Linked DNA regions of Homo sapiens. The protein of the gene in region 1 interacts with the protein of each later gene in a pairwise test. Each region holds a gene or a part of one and is shown on either strand. Other genes may lie near its edges.

Region 1 (7,016 bases):
ACCTGGGAGGCGGAGCTTACAGTGAGCCGAGTTCACGCCACTGCACTCCAGCGTGGGTGAGAGACTGTCTCAAAAAAAACAAAAAACAAAAAAACAAACAAAAAAACGAGTCCATTTGGACTTTGATGTGTGTACCTGAGGCCAGGACCATGTAGCCAACCCGAGGTGGCCGGGGCAGACTGGGCAGGCCTGAGCCTCCTCTATCCACTGGCTGTCCCTGCCCCTCGGCAGGGTGGCCTGAGCCTGGGGTAGGCAGGGACCAAGTGGCCAGCTCTGAGGGGAAGGGAGGGCACCTGCGGGTCGGCTCAGCCTCAGGCTAGAGCTGGGAAACCTTTGCTTCATCAAGACCAGAGCGGCTTCAGTGTTTAAATTGAAAGGAAACTTTTATTGAGTCATGTTTTCAAAGCAATCTAGTTTTTAAAAAAGTTGAAGACAAGACAGAAAAAAGAACATGACACCTAAGAGAATCAGACAGGACAGACAGACGGGAGCAGGGGGGCGGGGACAGCGGCTCCGTGGAGGTCAGATCTTCTCCATCTTGGAGATGAGGTCGTCGCAGATCCTGGTCAGCTCCTCGTTCTCTTTAGTCTGGAGGAGGAAGATGAGTTGCGGGGCTTCTCCCTGCTTGGAGGGAGCAGCAGGCCCAAGGGCCTTCTAGAAGGTGCTGCCAGACGGCCCCTTGAGCTGGGCTTCCCGCACCCACCTTCTGCTCCACTGTCTTCTCCAGCGACTGGATGCGCATCTGCTCCTTCCTCAGGCTGGCCTGGAGGGCCAACGCTTCCGCCTGGGCCTTGCTCCGGACCTGGGCGATCTCCTCGTTTGCCCTGGAGGGGTAGGGGCGGGGCAGAGGCTGAGCTGGGGCCCAGGTGCTCAGATTCTCCCTCCAGGGTGGGGCCTCGCCCAGCACTCACAGCTGCAGCTTCTCCTCCGCGTGGGCCTTCAGGGCTTGGTACCTCTGGCCCTCCTGGGTGATCCTTGCCAGGTAATCCTCCACGCACTTCTTCAGTGACTCTTCGTTCTAGGAAGGGGCAGGCATTAGCTGTGGGTACCACGCCGTCTGCTGGAGAGCACCCAGGCTTGGTGTCTGGGGACCTGCAGATCCTCGAGGCTGTCTGGGGCATCAGCCGTGAGCCAGTAGCTCCCGTTTTCCTTTTGGAAAAAGCCCCTTCACACAAGTTCCCAGCTCACCCCCTCTGGAGGTTCAGGACAGCCCTGGCTCTCCACCCTGAGATGCCGGGCCTGAACCTGGTGCCCTCACGGCTGGGCCCCCTCCTGCCACACCTGCAGCCTCTGCTGGCACCAAGTGCTGCTGGAAAGTGGGATGCACCTGGGACCACTGACAGCCCAGCCCGTCTCCCTCTGGAGCTGAGCCCTGTGCTTTGGGGACAGGCAGGGGAGGCCAGCAGGAGCCACATGGTTACCCAGACACGCCTGCTCCTCACAGGCTGCTGCCCCCTCTGGGGGCACCTTCCGCTCAGTGACTGAGAAGCCCTAACTGAGGGGTTCCTGGGTCCCCGAGTGGCCTCTGCTTGGGAAGGCTCAGCCTACCTGCCTTCTTCCTGCAGTGCCCCCAGCGGCCTCACAGCCCAGCCATCCTCACTCCTCTGTCGCAGCCCTGTATCCCAGAAGCACCCTCAGCACTGCAGCCTCTCCCTGAGCCCCTACCCAGCATGCAGCCCCTGATGTCCTGCGGAGGTCACGCCTCCCTTAAACCCACAGCACTGTGTTTCTCTGCTGTGGAAAATTCCCAACAGCGTCTGTCCGGGAGGCGGCATCCGGAAGCTCTCACGTGTGCACAGGTCAAGCCTCCCGCCACAGCGGCGTCTCTCCCTCTGGCTCTGGGGGCTGCCGTCCACACACTGGTTCCCAACTCAGCCTCTGCTTCCCTCATCTGACCTGTACCCTTTGAATTGTTAATGTTGTTAACTGTGTACCTGTTAGAAATTTCCATTTGGTTCTTTTCTAGTTTCTGTTTTTTTTTTTTAGACGGAGACTCACTCTGTCACTCAGGCTGGAGTGAAGTGGCATGATCTCGGCTCACTGCAACCTCCGCCTCCCGGATTCAAGCGATTCTCCTGCCTCAGCCTCACAAGTAGCTGGGACTACAGGTGCGTGCCACCATGCCCGGCTAATTTTTGTATCTTTAGAAGAGACAGGGTTTCACCATGTTGGTCAGGCTGGTCTCAAACTCCTGATCTCGTGATCCACCCGCCTCGGCCTCCCAAAGTGCTGGGATTACAGGCGTGAGCCACTGTGCCCAGGCTTTTTTTTTTTTTTTTTTGAGACGGAGTCTCGCTCTATCGCCAGGCCATAGTGTGATGGCGCGATCTTGGCTCATTGCAACCTCCACCTCCTGATTGATTCTCCTGCCTCAGCCTCCCAAGTAGCTGGGACTACAGGTGCCTGCCACCATGCCCAGCTAATTTTTGTATTTTTAGTACAGAAAGGGTTTCACCATGTTGGCCAGAATGGTCTTGAACTCCTGACCTCATGATCCTCCCGCCTTGGCCTCCCAAAGTGCTGGGATTACAGGCATAAGCCGGCCTAGTTTTTCTGTATTTTTTGTTTTCTGAGAGAGTCTCGCTCTGTCGCCCAGGCTGGAGTGCAATGGTGCCATATCGGCTCACTGCAACCTCTGTCTCCCAGGTTCAAATGATTTTCTGTCTCAGTTTCCTGAGTAGCTGGGACTATAGGTGCACACCACCATGCCTAACTAATTTTTGTATTTTTTTTTTTTGAGATGGAGTCTCACTCTGTCGCCCAGGCTGGAGTGCAGTGGCACGATCTTGGCTCACTGCAACCTCTACTTCCTGGGTTCAAGTGATTCTCCTACCTCAGCCTCCTGAGTAGCTGGGACTACAGGCAAATGCCACCCTGCCCAGCTAATTTTTGTATTTTTAGGAGACGGAGTTTCATCATGTAACCCAGGCTGGTCTCGAACTCCTGACCTCAAGTGATCCACCCGTCTCGGTCTCCCGAAGGGGATTCTTTTCTAGTTTCAAGGTCTCTATTGAAGCAATACTCTTCTGAATACAGAAGACAATTACTTTAAAGTCTGCACTGGGTCGTCCAAGATGGGATTAGATGTGCAAAGGAGCCTCCATGAGGAAGTAGGGAGGTGGCCAGTGGGAGCTGAGGCACAGGCCTGCCCCGGGGAGAGGCGAGGCCAAGGCAGCTGCTCACACCACAGCCCAACCTGAGGGAAGGTCAGCAAAGCCGCTGTGTCCTCAAGCCAGCAGCACCGTGTGAAGAGTCCTGCCTCTCCAAGCGTCTGTGCTGGGCCAGACTGCTGTACTCTGCTGCCGGTGGGCACTCTGCTGCCACAGGGCCCTTCCCATCTGCTCCCTGCAGACCTGAGGCACCACCTGCCGGTGCCAACTCCAGCGTCTGGGGCTCCTGTGGGTCTATCAACAGTTTTTGTTTTTGTTTTTTAATTTTAGAGATGGGGGTCTTGGTCTATTGCCCAGGCTGGGGGTGCAGTGATACAATCATGGCTCACTGCAGCTTCGACCTCCCGGGCTCAAATGATCCTCCCACCTCAGCCTCCCTAGTAGCTGGGACCACAGGTGTACATCACCATGCCTCACTCTAATAACGGGTCTGATTTTCACTCATGTTTCCTGTTCCTTTCACACTTGGTTATTCTGTGCCAGACACTAATTTAAAACTGCAGCAGCAATTTAAAGCATAAGATACCTTCTTCCCTAGAGTATTCAGGCTTGCTTCTGTTAGGCAGCTGGGCCCCAGCCACTGACACCCACCTGACTTCAGGACTCAGATGAGGTGTGGCTCAGCAGGCCCTGCAAGGGCCGCTTTTCCAGTTTAGTCTGACTCCCAGGGGACCCATCTGGTGTCCCCAACCCCCTTGCACCAACAGTGACAGCCCCTCTTCCAGCTGCACCTGCAGGTCCAGCTCCTCCACAGGAGGCGTTGAGCACCTCCGCTCCAACATTGCTGCTGTGGGCAGAACCCTCTGGCGGCCTCGCAGGCACCTTCCAGGCCTGCTCTGGGCAGATGGATGGCCCAGACATCCCTCCTTCCAGCAAGCATGTGGGCCTTGCCCAGCACAGAAGGTGGGGGGCGCTCAGAGTCCCGTGGCCAGGAGGACACCAGGGTGGCCTTGCACAGCCGTGACCACCTTTCAGTGGGCCTCCCGCCTTGGATACTGCATGCCCTGGGTCCCCAACCCTTGGGACCCAAGCGCTCGGACAGCCCAGACACCTTTCCGAGGTGCCCCAGGCCCCGGTGCACCAGCGCTGTCTCAAATCTCACAGATGCCTGATCATAGCCGAGTCGTCTGTCACACAACAGCGGACGGCTCAGATGGCCTCCCTGCTCACTCTGCCTCCTGCCGCCCTCAGCTGCCTCGCAAACCAGCTATGCTGTGACTCCTGCACCCTGTCTCGTTCACAGGTCATCCCATGCCCCCGTGGCAAGGGGAGGCTTGGCCAAGGACCAAGGTGCAAAGACAGCAGCTTGTAGCCCCGCTGGCTTGGACCATGAGTCCATCAGCCTCCGAGGTGAGGACACCAGGGTGGCGGAGACATACCTTGCGGTAGCCCTCGATCACCTCTTTCTGTTTCTCAAAACGCTTGAAGAGGTCGGAGAAGGACTTCTCCATGGAGTTCAGATCTGTGGTAAGTTGGTCTTTTTCTTTTAGAACTTTCTGGATTTCAGCTTTGGAAAGTTCCTTCTGCTTCTGAACTTCCTCTTGAGAAAAGAAAAGCAAACGTTCAGGATGAGGAGGCAACCGAAACGATGGGTGCCAGAGACAGCCCAAGGAATGAGGCAAGGGACTCGAGCGCCAGGAGGAGAGGTGGGCAGTGGGTGTGAGCCTCGGAGGGTGATGGGTCCCTCCACCCAGGATCTTCTAGGCCGGATGCAAAGCCCAGGAAACAGCTGTTTCCTCCACATCAGATCCGCAGGGAACTGGAGCCTGGGCCAGAGGTCCCTGAAGAGGCGGCGCCCAACACCCTAGAGCCTAGGGTGAGGCCTGGGAGCCGGTATGGCGAGCTCCAGGATGTGCGTCGTGCTTCGTGGTGGTCCTGGAGGGACTGCAAGGGCCAGGCGGTCACCTGCCGCCGGCTGACACTCAGCCTAAGACAGATCCCCACAGTAGCACCTCCAGGAGCCCAAGCTTTTGGGAGGCCAGATGAGGCCTGGTGTTCCCGTCCTGCCAGACACCTACAGAGGCTGCTGCTAGACATAGCCGCACGGCGAGGGCAGGGTGGAGTGGGGTAGGCCACGGCGGGACAGACTCTGCTCCCACCACAGCCCCACTGCTAGCTCAGCATCTGCACAACTGTGGGGCCTGCCAAGCCCTGGCTCCGTGGGAGCCACCAGCCTCACTACCACCAGCTTCCCCGCAACTCGCCTCAGTGCTTCCACGGCCGGGCCCATGTTGAAGGGACTCGTGTGTTAGGAAAAGGGGCCTCAGGAGGGTGGGGTCCTAGGCAGGGTGCAGGGCAGGGCCAGGGTGGGGCATAGGCAGCCCCTCGTGGAGGCACGTGGCCTCGGTGGCCCGGGCACTCACCCATGGCCTGGTACACAACCTCTTCGAACCTGTCCATGATCTTCCTGTGGGAGGAGAACAGACACACAGCCATTGCCTCGGGTGCCCAGCGGTCCCAGGCCAGGTGGGGATGGGGACGGGGACAGGGATGGCGAGGGGGATGGGGACAAGGATGGCGAGGGGGATGGGGACAAGGATGGCGAGGGGGATGGGGACGGGGAGGACAGGAGACGGGGCCTCCTTACCCCAGTTCCAGGTTCTTCCCGTGGAGCTCCTCACACCTGCTCCTCAGCTCCCGGTTCTCCTCCTGTGTCGCCTTTACCTGCTCAGGCCACACCCAAGTCAGCAGGCAGGCGGGCCAGACTGACCCTCCCAGGACCTCCCCACAGGATGGGGCCAGCCCGCACCCGAGGTCCCTGGAGCAATGTCCCAGAGGCACAGTTCCATGTGGGGCTTCCAGTGGGACCCTGGGAACCCTGTCGAGGCCAAGGCCACCTGCTCCACGTGCACCCGACTGCCAGGGGGCAGGAGGCATGAGGCTGCTGGCTGTGCTCCTGGGTGGAACCAGCAGGCACCCAACAGGTGTGTGTCCCTGCAGCTGCCCCCGCAGCCCAGTGGCAGATACTAGGGGTCCTAAGTGTTAAATATAGTGAACTCCAAGTTTGTCTTCAAAGAATCAGTAAGTCAGTATGTTCAGATCTCTTTTTTTTTTTTTGAGACAAGAGTCTCACTCTGTCGCCCAGGCTGGAGTGCAGTCACGTGATCTCTGCTTGCTGCAAGCTCCGCCTCCCGGGTTCAAGCCATTGTCTTGCTTCGGCCTCCCGAGTAGGTGGGACTACAGGTGCCCACCACCACGCCCGGCTAATTTTTGTATTTTTTAGTAGAGACAGGGTTTCACCGTGTTAGCCAGGATGGTCTCCATCTCTTGACCTCGTGATCCGCCCACCTCGGCCTCCCAAAGTACTGGGATTACAGGCGTGACCCACTGCACCCGGCCAGATCTCTTCTTTGATTCTCCATTTAAAATTCCTGGTTCTCTTCGCCCCTTGCTTCTAGTTTCAGTAAACAATTTTCCCGCCAGTCCTAATCAGTAGTTCACATCTGTTCCCTGGTCACCTGCTCCATCCTGACTCATCCCGGTCACCTGCTCTGACCTAAGTCACCTTGAGTTACCTGTTCCTAACCGTCCTTCCCGTCAAACTACTCACCCCACCACTCTGACTCTTACCCTGCCCTCTTTAAAATAGCCAATTGGAATTGGCTTAGACTGTGTGGTCCAACCTTAGCCAACAGGGGAACAACACAGCAGTAGGGCTACCTGTGTCAGGAATAAGAACCCCTTCCCCTCCCTTGTTCAGGTGTGCTCTTGCCATTGCTCCATCTGCGAGGGGCACCCTTTCTGCAGAAAGTAAAAACTGCCTTGCTGAGAAAATTAATGTTCGAGCACTATTTCTTTGTGGCACCAGAGAACAAGCATTGTGCATTTCTAACATAAGTTACATGC
Region 2 (7,406 bases), on another chromosome or scaffold:
AGAGAGCTCCTGGGCACAGTGGGGGCAAGTGCCTGCGGGGAGGCCCCTCTTGGGCACATGCCCTGCATTTGCCGGCAAAGGGTGGGGCCCCCAGGTGGGCTCTGCCGGTCCCCCGCCGGTCCCCAGCCCCACTGGCCCCAGCACTCACAGAATTCCACCAGCAGGGCAGGGTGCTCCCGCAGGGCCAGGCCCAGGGTGTGGCGGCTCAGCACCAAGATCCCATCCTCCTTGGGGATTTCCTCCTCTGGAGGCTCCTCCGAGGGGCTCCTCGCTCCCTGTTCCTGACCCCATGGGCACGAAGCCCTGAGCAGCAGCAGCAGCAGTACAGGCAGAAGCTGGCGGCTCATGGTGCTGCCAGGGCGCGTGGGGCGGGGGCAGATAAGGGGGCCAGAAGCCAAGCAGCAGCTGCCACGTGGCACACAGGCCCAGTCCCAGCAAAGACAAGGCCCATGCGGCCGCCCCCGGCCCCCAGGGGAGGGGAGGCAGAAAGAGACGACACCCAGGGCACCGAGAGAGACAGGGCCATGTTTAATGGGACAGCTCAGGGGACAGCGCCAGGCCAGGGGGTCCCGGGACAGAGCAGGGGCAGCAGGGGCAGCAGGGGCAGCAGGGGAGGGTCTGGTCACTCACGGGGGGTGCTGGGGATGCTTGGGGGTCCCTGTGCAACAACTGAGGGAGGTAGGGGAGACACGGACTGGGGGTTCAGTCCTTCCAGTCCTGGCAGATGCAGAGACCCCACTCCCAGGACAGGTGGTGCGTCCTGTCATCGTCGGTGAAGAGGGACACCACCAGATAGGGGCCCCGCACCAGCGCACCCCTCGGCGCTTCCTCCACCGGAGTCACAAACTCATACTCCTGGGCGCTCGGGCCATAGCTGCCCACCATGTAGACGGTCTTGTCCACTAGGGAGGGCGAGGGCATCAGAGCTGTCCTCTGTCTGCCCCCGCTTCCCCCCCCCGCCCCGTTCCCCCCACCGCTGCCCTCACCGCGCAGGCCCCGGCGGTAGGTGTGGTGCAGACACTTGAGGCCGCTGACAATCTCCCTGTGGACCTGGGAACAGAGGCATTAGGGGTTCCTCTGGGGGCCAGGCCTCTGGCTGTTGCCCCCACCCCCATCCCCTCCGCCCATTGCCCCGGCTCTCACCTTGAAGGAGATCTTCACTCTGTAATCAACACCTTCCTTCAGGACAAACACCTGGTCCTTCAGAACAGCCAGGTCCCCTATTGGGGAAACCTCAGCTAGGGTCGGAACTCCCCTACAGGCTGAGACCTGCTCCAGGAGCCCCCACGTAGGGTGTGGTACCCATGAGGTGTGCGACTGTGATGGCCCAGGGCTCGGAACTCAGGGGTGCAGAAGCGTGCCTGGGAGGGCCCTACCTGTGTTCAGGGTGCAGCATCCTGCGAGTTACCTGTGAGATCCATGACGACGGGCCCCGGAGCCTGTTCCGACAGGAGTGTCAGCCTGGTCACCTGCACATTGGGCAGGCTTGGGTCTGAGGAGAAACTGGAAGTCTGCAGGATGCCCCCCACCCCCACCAGGCTCCTCACCAGCCCCCCAGACCCAGCCCTCCAAGCCTAGACCCCTGCCATACCCACGGCCGGTGGCAGGGGCCCCAGCAGCACCCGCTTGTACTTGGCCAGGCTCCTGTCGTCCGGGTCCAGCTGCCGGATCTCCAAGAGGCTCTTCCTCCCCGGCGCCCGGTACTCGGGCACAGCCTCATCCAACACCTCGTCCACTGCCGGCGGCCCACCCTCCTTGTCAGCCAGGAGGACTGGGGGTGGGGAGGGGCGTGAGCAGCAGCCACTAGCGGACCCTGGCATTCGAGCACCAGGCTGGAGCCCCCTCTGGCCAGCTGTACCTCCCACTATCCAAAGGGACTCAAGGGAAGCCTCTGGGGGCTCAGGGAGAGAGCGAGCAGAGAGAGCAGGGCGGCCTGGGGAGGTGCCGCACCGCACCCAGACCTTCAGGAGGGGCCTCCAGAGACCGCCAGGCCTGCAGCTCCTCTGGCCCAGATGTCCACAAGGGCCCCCTCCCTGACTCGGAGACCAAAGGGCGGGGGAGCGAAGACTTCAGATGAGGGCAGCCCAGGGTCAGGGGCTACCTGCTAGAGAGCAGCGGCCCTCGGCGGCCCCCAAACCTACTGACCCTCTAGGGCCCTCGGCGGCCCCCAAACCTACTGACCCTCTAGGGCCCTCGGCGGCCCCCCAAGCCTACTGACCCTCTAGGGCCCTCCACCACCCTGCTCTGGACTGGGGTCTCTGAACACTTTCCCACAGTCTAGGAGTTCCTCCCCATGGTGCTCGGGTGCCGGGGGCGGCTGTCTCCAAATCCCTGGGCTCAGGCTCTGCGCCGCCTCCCATGGCGCCCCGGGCTGGTGGCCTCCTGAAGCCCCTCTCCCTGGTGCCCTGGGCAGGGGTTTCTGAGTCCCTGCCCACTTCGCTCCCGTCTTCTCGGGGATCACCACACGCCCTACAGAGCCTGAGCCCCAGCCCCAGCCCCACCCAAGACAGAGGGGCTCCAGGCGGCGGTGTCCAGGGGGAGAGGGTCCCAGCGCCGCCGCTTCCCAAGCCGACCCGTCCGCACCTGGTCCCTTCCCCACAGGGCTGGAGCCTGGATGAAGTCCCCCACCCCTGCCAGACCCCAGCCGGGGGGTCGGCGCCGCGAGGTCCCCATGCGCGCCCCCAAAGTTGCCGCGGGGGAGGGGCTACTCCCCGCCCGGGGCTGAGACCAGCCGAGCCCCCCGCCCCTGCCCGGCCCGCTCACCTCGGGCGCACAGCGCCAGCCGGAGCAGCTCCAGCAGCTGCGCCCCCAGCTCGCACGCGTCCAGGCCCAGCATGGCGGCGCGCGGCCCGGGCGCCGCGGAGCCGCCGAGGAGCCGCCGCCCGCCCCGCCGCCGCCCCGCTCGGCGCTCAGCCCCGGCGCGACTGCGGTGAGCTCATCCCGGCCGGGAGCGCCCCCCGCGCCCAGCCGCGCCCGGCAGAGAGCCCCCAGCCGCTCCGGACCCCGCGCAGCCCCGCAGAGACGCGCGTGTCGCCCGCACGGGCCGGCACCCGGGTCGCCCCCGCCGGCGTGCCAGGACCCCGCACAGAAGCGCCCGGACGCGGACGCACGCAGCCGCGGTCACGATCCCCGCCGCCCGCCCGGCCCGTGCCCGGCTCTGGCCAGCAGGGCTGCCCCACCCCCACGGCGCGGCGGGAGCCCGAGGGGGTCTCCTGGGAAACCCTCTGCGGGGCGCCGTGGCGCAGGTGCGCCCCCATCCCCAGGGTCTCATTATCCGCGGCCACACCTGGGGCCGGACCGCGCGCCCCCTTCCCCTCCCCCGCTCCTGAGGGAGCTTCTGTCTGGGCCGAGGGGGACTCCGGGGGCCTGCCCAGCCTTGGGGTGAGGGGCTGGCCCAACACCCTACAGGTTCACGGTCATCAGTAGGGCGGGACCACAGTGGGCGCGGGTCGCACGCACACCCAGGAGGCAACAAGGGCCCCTCAAAGGCTTAGCGACCTGGCTGCGCTGTGTGAGTTCCCAAGAGGGGGTGTCCCTGCAGGGCTCTTGGAAACCCAGTTACCGAGCCCCCTGTCCTCAGGGAGAGGACACTGACAAGGGGGCGGAGTACAGAGACCGGAGCACAGAGGGGGCTTCTGATATTGACACCTAAACTGAGACCTGTGGGTGGGTGGGGGGGATGGGACCCGGCAGGGGACAGGGGTGAGCAGGCCCTGGCTGGGACAGCTGGACCAAAGGCCTGCGTCTGGATAAGGGAGAAGGGGTCCGAACACCAGCCTGAGTCCCTTTCTTAGACACCCCTGGCCGGTTCCAGGGACACCAGAAATTAGACCCGCCCTTGCCAAAGAGCTCCTCAATTGAGAGAAGACCACCTTGGGTGCTAGGGGGCATTGGGGTTTGGGTGGGGACTGTCTCCCTTGCCCCCCAACTGCCCACAACCTTTCCAGGGCAGGATCCTATGAACTTGTGCCCAGGCCCCCCTAGAGCGCCACCTCTGCTGACCCTTCGCTGCAGGGAGCGGGGGCTGTTAGGACACTTGTCCCCAGGCCCACAGCTCCAGCTCCTGCAGCTGTTACCAGATAGAAGGTCTTGGAGGTGAGTTGTCCAGGTTCTTGGTGGGTTGAACAAAGAATTGAACAAAACGCACAAAGTAACAAAAGAACAACGAAACACAAGGAAACAAAACTGAGTCAGAAGAACGGAGTAAGGAAAGCACAGATTTAACGGAAGGCAATTCACAGAGTGGGAGTGGGCTGGAGCAAGTAGCTCCAGAGCCTCTGTAATTAGGATTTTTATTAAGCAAAGAAACCTGACCACAGCCCTTGTGCCCTTTAGAGGCCTCCAATTGGCTACACCCTATGAAGGATTGGCCCGAGACCAATCAGAGGTGAAGTGGAAATTTCTGTCTTGTTATCACAGCAGCCAGGATGTGGCTTGTGAGCTGCCCAATCCTGCCTAGAACTGGCTGCACCTGCTGTTCCGTTTCTTATGCCCAACCCTTGGCTACCCTCATTCCCTATTCTGCCTCACAGCTACCATGGGTGCCCACCCCTGCAGACAGGGCAGCCAGACCTGGGCCACCTCACCCCACCTGGGTGTGGGGCATGGGAGGGCTCACTGGGATCCAAGCGAGATGGTACCCTGGAGTAAGAGACCCCACAAGCCCCCTGCCCCAGCTCATGCTGAACGTGGCCTCTCCGGCAATGGAAATGGACTCAGACCACTATGTTAGGGGCTCCCAGCCCAAGGCCAACCGCCCACCCTGCCCAGCCCCTAGCACCCTCTGAGTGGGTAAGGATGGGGAGAGGTACTCTGCCTCCAAGAAAGCAGAAATAGACCAGATGCGGTGGTACACATCTGTAGTCCCAGCTACTCAGGACGCTGGGGTGGGAGAATCACTTGAGCTCAGGAGTTTGAGGCTGCAATGAGTTTATGATTGCACCACTGCACTCCAGCCTGGGTGACAGAATGAGACTGCCATCTCTCAAAAAATAAATACATAGCCAGGTGCCATGGCTCATGCCTGTAATCCCAACATTTGGGAGGCTGAGGCAGGAGGATCACTTGAGGCCAGGAGTTCAAGATCAGCCAGCCTAGGCAACACAGCAAGAAACTGAGGCCCTTACAGACAGGGATAAGCGAGGGGCTACGTGTATATTTATCTACAAAAATAAAAATGAAATTAAAAAAAAAATTAGTGGCCAGGTGCGGTGGCTCATGCCTGTAATCCCAGCACTTTGGGAGGCCAAGGCAGGTGGATCACTTGAGGTCAGGAAGTTTGATACCAGCCTGGCCAACACGGTGAAACCCCATCTCTACTAAAAATGCAAAAAAAAAAACAAAAAAAAAAATTAGCCGGGCATGGTGGCGCATGCCTCTGATCCCACCTACTTGGGAGCTGAGGCAAGAGAATCGCTTGAACCCAGGAGGCGGAGGTTGCAGTGACCCGAGATTGCACCATTGCACTCCAGCCTAGGCAACAAGAGTGAAACTCCATCTCAAAATAAATAAATAAATAATTTAAAAAATAAAGAAAGCAAGCAGAAATAGATGCATTTGCACCTTTTAAAAATGGTGCTGAGGCTGGGCTCGGTGGCTCAGGCCTGTAATCCCAGCACTTCGGGAGGCCGAGGTGGGCAGATCGCCTAAGGTCAGGAGTTCAAGACCAGCCTGGCCAACAAGGTGAAATGCTGTCTCTACTAAAAATACAAAAATTAGCCAAGCGTGGTGGCGGGGGCCTGTAATCTCAGCTACTCAGGAGGCTGAGGCAGGAGAATTGCTTGAATCTGGGAGGAGGAGGTTGCAGTGAGACGAGATTGCGCCATTGCACTCCAGCCTGACAGAGCAAGACTCAGTCTCAAAAAAAAAAAAAAAAAAAAGATGCTGGCTGGGCATGCCTTTAATCCCAGCACGCTGGGAAGCTGAGGCAGGAGGATGGACTGAGCCCAGGAGTTTGTGACCACCTTGGGCAACATAGTGAGACCTCGACTTAGTTTTTAAAAAATGATCCGACCGGGTGTGGTGGCTCACACCTGTCATCCCAGAACTTTGGGAGGCCAAGGCAGGTGGATCACCTGAAGTCAGGAGTTTGAGACCAGCCTGGCCAACATGGTGAAACCCCATCTCTACTAAACATACCAAAATCGGCCAGGCACAGTGGCTCACACCTATAAGCCTAGCACTTTGGGAGGCCAAGGCAGGCACATCACCTGAGGTCAGGAGTTCGAAACCAGCCTGGCCAACGTGGTGAATCCCTATCTCTACTAAAAATACAAAAATTAGCTGGGTGTGGTGGCGCGTGCCTGTAATCCCAGCTACCTAGGAGGCTGAGACAGGAGAATCGCTGGAACCCAGGAGGCGGAGGCTGCAGTGAGCCAAGACCGCATCACTGCACTCCAGCTTGGGTGACACAGTGAGACTCCGTCTCAAAAACAAAAACAAAAATAAAAATTAGCCAGGCGTGGTGGTGGGAGCCTGTAATCCCAGCTACTCAGGAGGCTGAGGCATGAGAATTGCTTGAATTCAGGAGGCGGAGGTTGCAGTGAGCCGAGACTGCCCGGTGGGGCCTGAAGATCCTGGGCCTGGCTCGGGGTGCACCTGGGGGACAGGCATAGCCATTGGAGGAGGGAGAGAGCTGGGAGTGGAGTGGGGCCTGAAGCCTGGCGGCCGCCGGTGACACTAAGTGGGTGTGTGTTGAGGGCCTCCCTGCAGTAAAGCTCCTCTCCAACAGTGTCAGGGTGCCCTGGGCAGGGTTTCTGCTCATTCCCCAGCGGGCCACCCAGGCCTGCGTGGAGCTGAGGGAAGTGAGCCATGAGCCATCAGCCACTTTCCCGGAAGGACCCCGGATAAGGGACCCACAGCAGGAGATGGGGACAGCTGGGTCACACTCTGCAGCAGCCACGTGCTCCACTGACAGCCGGCATCCGGCCCATGTAGAAAGCTGACCCAATCTCTCATGCACCCTGCCCCTAACCAGCCACCGTCACAGCAATGTATGCAGTCTTGGCCACAAGCATCGCAGGACACAAGGCCTCGGGCAGTCATACCGCTGGCCCTGGCCCCGGCCCCACAGCCAGGCCTCTAGTCCCTGTATGTCCTCAGGGCCCCACACATAGGACCGGGGTTACAGTGGGCCCTAAACCACGTTTCCCACCCCAGTTCACTCTCCCTACGGGTCTCCTCTACTCACGGAACCCCTCTCCCTCTCTGAACCCCCATCCCCTCCGCTGCCCTCCCTGAGACCCTCCCCATAGTAACCCCCCCTCGCTGATGAGCCCCTCTGCCTCTCCCAGAGACCACCCCCTGCTCCAGCTGAGCTCCATCCCCTCACATCCCCCCTCGGCCCCCGGCCCACACCCTCCCCCGTCCCACTTCGCCTTCACCCACGAGGGCCTCAGCGTCCCGGG

Evidence for each region. Proteins that work in one complex are often made in the same cells at the same time.
Region 2: the proteins of TACC3 (region 1) and ARHGDIG interact in binary tests that used the Homo sapiens proteins (3 or more experiments, as listed by UniProt).

What each region holds. Positions count from the first base shown.
Region 1 is NC_000004.12:1,738,520-1,745,535, reverse strand, and holds the end of TACC3 (transforming acidic coiled-coil-containing protein 3), read right to left. Parts: exon of another isoform or gene 5,838-7,016; coding exon of another isoform or gene 5,835-5,837; coding exon 5,758-5,834; exon of another isoform or gene 5,578-5,757; coding exon 5,534-5,577; exon of another isoform or gene 5,055-5,533; coding exon of another isoform or gene 4,975-5,054; exon of another isoform or gene 4,711-4,974; coding exon 4,550-4,710; intron 2,142-4,549; exon of another isoform or gene 1,999-2,141; intron 1,019-1,998; coding exon 912-1,018; intron 825-911; coding exon 704-824; intron 622-703; coding exon of another isoform or gene 589-621; coding exon 523-588; 3' UTR 365-522; downstream 1-364. UniProt on the Homo sapiens protein: Plays a role in the microtubule-dependent coupling of the nucleus and the centrosome. Involved in the processes that regulate centrosome-mediated interkinetic nuclear migration (INM) of neural progenitors.
Region 2 is NC_000016.10:276,111-283,516, reverse strand, and holds ARHGDIG (rho GDP-dissociation inhibitor 3), read right to left. Parts: upstream 2,927-7,406; 5' UTR 2,837-2,926; coding exon 2,764-2,836; intron 1,772-2,763; coding exon 1,592-1,771; intron 1,493-1,591; coding exon 1,409-1,492; intron 1,221-1,408; coding exon 1,144-1,220; intron 1,051-1,143; coding exon 987-1,050; intron 903-986; coding exon 703-902; 3' UTR 507-702; downstream 1-506. Other genes in the region: PDIA2 (protein disulfide-isomerase A2 precursor), read right to left, coding at 149-347. UniProt on the Homo sapiens protein: Inhibits GDP/GTP exchange reaction of RhoB. Interacts specifically with the GDP- and GTP-bound forms of post-translationally processed Rhob and Rhog proteins, both of which show a growth-regulated expression in mammalian cells.